Linked DNA regions of Homo sapiens. The protein of the gene in region 1 purifies or fractionates together with the protein of each later gene. This does not show direct contact. Each region holds a gene or a part of one and is shown on either strand. Other genes may lie near its edges.

What was found. Proteins that work in one complex are often made in the same cells at the same time.
Region 2: the proteins of SEMA4B (region 1) and DCBLD2 purify together in Homo sapiens (affinity purification with western blotting, with the first as the bait; one study listed by BioGRID). This does not show direct contact.

What each region holds. Positions count from the first base shown.
Region 1 is NC_000015.10:90,221,822-90,225,336, reverse strand, and holds part of SEMA4B (semaphorin-4B isoform 1 precursor), read right to left. Parts: intron 1,779-3,515; coding exon 1,597-1,778; intron 1,500-1,596; coding exon 1,349-1,499; intron 370-1,348; coding exon 159-369; intron 56-158; coding exon 1-55. UniProt on the Homo sapiens protein: Inhibits axonal extension by providing local signals to specify territories inaccessible for growing axons.
Region 2 is NC_000003.12:98,811,181-98,814,695, reverse strand, and holds part of DCBLD2 (discoidin, CUB and LCCL domain-containing protein 2 precursor), read left to right. Parts: intron 1-2,213; coding exon 2,214-2,364; intron 2,365-3,141; coding exon 3,142-3,228; intron 3,229-3,376; coding exon 3,377-3,502; intron 3,503-3,515.

The sequences.
Region 1 (3,515 bases):
TCAATGATGTGCACCCGGGGGCCCACGCTCACTGCCTTGTGGAGCCGGCCGTCACCTGGGGTGTGGACAGGACTCAGGCCCTGGGTGGAGCCCACTGCCCATGACCCACCAGCCACGTGCACCCCTTCCCCTGAGCCTGCTGGGCTGCAGACACTTACCAGTGCCCAGGAAGAGGACATCGTAGGTGTGGTGCAGGCCAGGGACGCGGTGTACAGCCACGCGCTGGTAGCGAGCCTGGGGCTGCAGCAGCAGCATGCGGCTTCGGACCTGCCCGTCCATCAGGAAGTGGTCCTTGAGGAAGTTCAGCACGCGGTCTGGGAGCTGCAGGGATGAGTTGATCTTCCTTTCCCGGGCACTGTTGGTGATGCACTGGAGGAGAAAGCAGCAGTGTGAGGCCAGCCACACCTCGGGGTGGCAGGCAGGATGCGGGCCCTGCTTCCCCAGTGGACAGTAGCGGTGTCTGTCCCCCCGCCCGGAGCCAGGGCACATCCCTGGCAGTGCTCTACAGAGCCAGTGTGCACATCTGAGGGAGCAAGGACAAAGCCCAGGGTGCGGGGAAACCGAGTGCTTGGAGGGCTTCCTTGCTGTGCCTCCTCCCTGCCCACCACCCCAGCCTCATATGCCCAGGGGCCTCAAGAACCAGGACCACACTCCCTGCTCCTCTGCACCCTTCACCAGTGCTCTCAGGAAGCCCTGGCCGGGCAGAGCGTCCCAGTGCAGTCGGCAGTTCTTTCCTGCCCCGCCTGAGGCTTCCTGAAATTCTGAGAGGTGCTCCACACCATCTGTCAGGGGCTCCAGCAGGACCCAGCTCCAGCTGCCCACAGCAACAACAGCGTGCTGACACACCCTCTTTTGGTTTCCCTCCCTCCTCCTCTCAACCTTCCTATTCCTTCATGCTGCTTCCTGGCATCACCTCCCTAATAAACTATTTGGCACGTATATCCTTGTCTCAAGGTCTGCTATCAGGGTAGCCCGTTAGGCTAGAAGGGAGGAAGAAAGGATTATTTCCCCACAGCTTGCCCATTCAGTCACTTGATAATTAAATAAGGAGCTTGCAGCTGAGTAGGGGAGAGGACCAAATGAAGAGATGATTGTAACAGCCTGCAGCAAGTGCCCTGATGGGGACACACTTGTATCCTGAAACAGAACTGAAGATATTCTGACATTCATACTTATATCTAACCCAGTACACAAGCAGGCCTGGGCCTATATCCCCATATTAAAGATGAGAAAAGAGATTCAGAGAAGCCAAGTGATCTGCCCGAGGCTAGGCAGCCTTGCTCCCAGCATGGTGTGGGGACCCACATCTTCCCGGCACCCCTTCTGGGTGCAGGGAGCCAGTACCCACCGCTCCAGGCCGGGGTGTGGGCACCGGGTGGGTCACGGTGTACCACTGCTGTGTCTCACGGTTCACCTCCTTGTAGAGGCCGCTGAAGACTCTCTGCACATCCTTCATTGTGAAGACACAGACGGCAGAGCCTTCTGTAGTTCCCCTGTGCCTGCAGAGGAAATAACCAGATTAACCCAGGAGCCCTGGGGGCCCCAGTCCCAGCCACCCTTCACCCTTCCATCTCCAGCGAGGTCTGGAGGCCCTACCACTGGGAAGTGAAGACCCCATAGAAAAGGGTGTCACGCCAGTCCTGGGGGCTGGGGCTCAGCGTGAAGACATCCTGCAGCACGTTGAAGGGGAAGCCATCGTCGGGCCGTGAGCACAGCAGCTGGGCCTTGAGGAAGGAGGTCCAGCGCTGCTGTAGCACCCGCTCTCCACCCTCATCGCCCTGGAGGGAGAGTCGGATGGGCTGGGCTTAGGCACATGCTGAGCCATGACGGGGATGCACGGCACAGGACTGCCTCAATGGACCCACCCCAGACACCAGGACTGAAGGGCAGGAGAAGGCCAGGACCAAGTTCCATCTAAAGTCAGGAAGAGCAGTGTACGCATCCATCAGGAGGATGGTCCTTACTGTAACTAAGCAGAGCCTTCCTAAATATGGACGCGATTCACTGCTGAGCAAACAAGGAAGCCAAAGGACCCCAATATAGCCTAATGCCATGTTCCTGAGTGAGTTAATAATATAAGTACAAGGTCGGGATGGTACTTATATTATTAATGCCTATAATTCCAGCACTTTGGGAGGCCAAGGCGGGTGGATCACTTGAGCTCAGGAGTTTGAGACCCTGTCTCTGCTAAAAATACAAAAAAATTAGCTGGGCATGGTGGTGCATGCTGGTAGTCCCAGCTACATGAGGGGCTGAGGTGAGAGGATTGCTTGAGATTGGGCAGCGGAGGTTGCAGTGAAATCTCACCGCTGCACACCAGCCTGGATGACAAAGTGAGACCCTGTCTCAAAAAGGAAAAAAAAAAATGTATATATATATATACACAGAGTTACACATATGCCAAAAAAAAAAAAAAAGATTTGGAGGGGGCATTCTAAAATGATACCAGTGACTCCTTCTTGTGCTGGGGTGGTGGGGTAATAACATTCATAGTTCACATTTAGTCACTGCCCACCACATTTCTAAGAGCTTTGCGTGGATTAATAATTCACATAACAACTCTGAGGTCAGTGTTATTCTTCCTATTTAACAGAAGAGGAAACTGTTAACCGAGGGGGTGAGGGACTTGCCCAAGATCCTAGGCCAGCAGGGTTTGAACTTGGGCAGTTGGCCTCCAGGGTCTGTGCTCTCCAGCTGATGCTACAGTGCCTCTTTAACTTGTAAGTGATTTTTGTGTGTACAGTTTTCTATTTTCACATTTTTTTTTTTGAGACAGTCTTGCTCTGTCACCCAGGCTGGAGTGCAGTGGCACCATCTCGGCTCACTGCAACCTCCACCTCCCAGGTTCAAGCGATTCTCTTGCCACAGCCTCCTGAGTAGCTAGGATTACAGGCGTGCACCACCACGCCCAGCTAACTTTTGTATTATTAGTAGAGATGGGGTTTTACCATGTTGGCCAGGTTGGTCTCAAACTCCTGACCTCAGGTGATCCACCCACCTTGGCCTCCCAAAGTGCTGGGATTACAGGCGTGAGCCACCATGCCCGGCTATTTTCACATTTTTTAAGTAAAAAAAAAAAAAAGAAAAGAAAAAAAATGGCTGGGTGCAGTGGCTCATGCCTGTAATCCCAGCACTTTGGGAAGCCGAGGTGGGTGGATTGTTTGAGCCCAGGAGTTTGAGACCAGCCCAGGCAACGTGGTAAAACCCCATCTCTACAAAAAATACAAAAATTAGCTGGGCATGGGGGCGCACACCTGTAGTCTCAGCTACTCGGGAGGCTGAGGTAGGAGAACTGCTTGAGCCCAGGAGGTCGAGGCTGCAGTGAACCGTGATCGTGCCACTGCACTCCAGCCTGGGTGACAGAGCAAAGATCCTGTCTAAAAATAAAAAGAAAAAAAAAAAAGAAAAAAGTAGTAAGATATTTTAATTTAAAAGGTGAGAGAGAAAAGCTGTTAGCCAAGCTGTACTCCTTGGCGGGATGGGAAAGGCCATGCATGGATGTGGGTGATCTTGCA
Region 2 (3,515 bases), on another chromosome or scaffold:
TTACCCCTTTTCTGAGCCTGCACATGTGCATGAGTACGCAGAGACTGCATTTGGTTTTGTTTTTAGAAAATGGGATTTATATATATATATACAATTTGTTTTCATAATATATCACTTTCTAACATTATGCCATATTTATGTGTGGTAATCAATAAAATTTAAGTTTCTTGAGGGTGGGAACTGTAGCAACCATATCCATTTTCTCTTCATGACACCTCACATACTTCTCTGTACATGAGGATTCTCAGTAAATGCTCATAGGTTGACTATAGCAAATCTTTTTTACTCAGTTTTTATAAAATTGAGACAGCAATATAGAGGAATATCTTAAAGATAGTTTTTATGTGTTAAAGTAATGATTTGTTATCGTCCCTGTTCCACTAATATAGTAAGAATGAAAATAATTGCCTTTCATTTTATTTCAGAGTAATATCTGAGGAAATCACGGGAGCTCACTAGTATGGAAGTTATTGTAACTGCAAAACAAACTTTTTAGGAAATGAAGGATATTAACACATCTTTCGAGATTTATAGTCTAATGCCAAGTGAATTAGCCAAGAAGAAATAGAGCCACAATACTTGGAAATAGCTTGATTGAGAAGTTAAACATTTACTTAATCTCATCTTAGCTGATTAGAAAAAAAATCACTTTGATTTTAGGCAATATATGCTTATTAATGGTCTTTAGAAACTACCTAGTTGATCTGACCTAGAGAACAAACAGGGCTCTTTTTAGCTTATTGGAGTCCATACTTAAGTCGGAAGACCCAGAGTCAAGTTGCTGCCCTGTCATTGACTAGCTGTGCAATCCACTTACAGATTCCTGTGCCCTCCTATTTCATAGGGTTGTCTGAATTAGTTACATTAAAATGTTTTATAAATAATTAAGTGCTGGTCCATTGTAAGATACTATCATTATTTGCTTGAAGTAGTTAAGGGAATGAGACTCACCTAAACTCATATTTTTACCTAGGGATTATTTTTATAATGCATTTGTTGCTAGTTAGTTACAAGCATTAAATTAGTCACAGGCCAGGCGTGGTAGCTCACACCTGTAATTCCAGCATTTTGGGGGAGGTCTAGGTGTGAGTATACTTGAGGACAGGAGTTTGAGACCAGCCTGAACAGCATAGCAAGACCCCTTTCTACAAAAATAAAAAATCACCAGGTGCAGTGGCTCATTCCTGTAATCTCAGCACTTTGGGAGGCTGAGGCAGGTGGATCCCTTGAGGTCAACATGGTAAAACCCTGTCTCTACTAAAAATGCAAAAATTAGCCGGGCGTGTTGGTGCACACCTGTAATCCCAGCTACTCAGGAGGCTGAGGCAGGAGAGTTGCTTGAACTTGGGAGGAAGAGGTTGCAGTGAGCCAAGATTGCGCCACTGCACACTAGCCTGGGCAACAAAGCGAGACCTCTTTTCTAAATAAATAAGTAAATATTGCCACACATGTTGGCATGCGCCTCTGTAGTCCTAGCTACTCAGGAGGCTGAGGTGGGAGGATCTTTTGAGCCCAGGAGTTCTAGGCTGTATTGTGCTATGATCCCGCCAATGCATTCCTTGGATGACAGAGCAAGACTCTATCTCTAAAAATAATTAATAATTTAAGCATAAAATAGCATTTCAAAGTCACTTCTAGTTTAAATAGCAGCATGGAACAAAAACCGGGATAATAGGAGAACTGTCTTTATGCAGTTTATCCAGTAGGTGGAGGTATATATCTGTTATATGTTTGTTAGTATATGTTCACCTTCAGCCTGTTGAGAGAAAAATTATGAAAAGTACACAAGCAAAATATTTCCCCTAAGACTTGGCATGATCAATTTTGTTTTACTTTAAAAATAAAAATTAATATATTTAAATAGTTGGTAATTCCACAGGACTAGAGTTACTGATTTACTAATAGGATAAATTGTCTCACTGGATTTGAAACCTTTTACCCAAATGCCAAGTTAGCCCTCTTGTTAAGTTCTTAAATCATCTTAAAATCATTTCTATATTAAATATTTTTGTTTCATAAACTTTTGATAAAAATGTGCAGCATCTTAATATTTTTCCAAATTATGATTATTTTCTTAAAAATTGATCCTTATTATCATACTTTCCAGATGTAATTTAAGGCCTAGAGCAAAGAACAAAAACATGTTTAAGTGGAGAAATTTAGCCCTGACCTCTATTGATTTGAAGTACCAATTTTTTGTTGTTTTTTTAAAGATATTTCAAGGAAACAAAGATTATCACCAGGATGTGCGTAATAACTTTTTGCCACCAATTATTGCACGTTTTATTAGAGTGAATCCTACCCAATGGCAGCAGAAAATTGCCATGAAAATGGAGCTGCTCGGATGTCAGTTTATTCCTAAAGGTAAAGAGACAGTTCGTTTAAGATATGTTTTTACTGGATTGCCAATTTAAAATGGTTTTGCTGTTCTCAGAGAGAGTAATTAATAATGTGAGTGTCTTTCTGGTTAAACTCTAATTACAATATCTTCTTAAAGGGATGTTAAAAAAAATGGTTACCCTATTAAAAAGTTAGTTATAAGAATGGTTTCCAAAATTATAAGTGGAAGAAGAAATAGCATCATTCATAAGATAATGTAAATGAGATCACTTTCCAAATTTAATCTCAATCCTAATAATTTTAAATCAGGTGTCATGTACTGTAATATTTGTTTAACATAAGCATGAAAGATTGTAACAATACATTTAAAGCAAGAATAATTTATCTCAATATTATACATTTTAATATACTGTTTACTTTTGTACGCCCAAAGGCTACCACAGTGCCTGACACATCGTTGGCCCTCCATAAATAACTATTAAATGAATTGAATAAGTACTGTATCAAAATGTGGATGACTCCTTTATAGCTTTAGCATTCAACATCACTTTCCACCCCATTATTCTTCTTCCTAAGATTATTTTCAGATGATTTAATTATTTAAAAACTGAGAAATCCTGGCATATTTGTGCCTTTATTGCAGAGTATAATATTTATCCTTCCAATATATTTCTCTCTGAGAGTTAAAATTATTCTGCAGAATTAAATACTTTAGGAAATATTGAAGACATTTAGCATTACTATTTTTAATTATGATTTTTAAAAACAAAATGTTTAAATTTTTCTAAACCATTTTTCAAGGTCGTCCTCCAAAACTTACTCAACCTCCACCTCCTCGGAACAGCAATGACCTCAAAAACACTACAGCCCCTCCAAAAATAGCCAAAGGTATGCCTGTTTTTAATGTGAGAATTTGATATTCCTTGGATTTATGGTGCAACTTTCCAAAAATATATTAAAAGCATTATCAAATAAGTTTATGTTAATCAAGTTGGTACAGATTAAAAAGTAAAGAGCTTTTGAAACTTTTTTAAAGGTCGTGCCCCAAAATTTACGCAACCACTACAACCTCGCAGTAGCAATGAATTTCCTGCACAGACAGAACAAACAACTGCCAGTCCTGATATCAGAAATACTACCGTAACTCCAAATGTAACCAAAGGTATGCAAACATG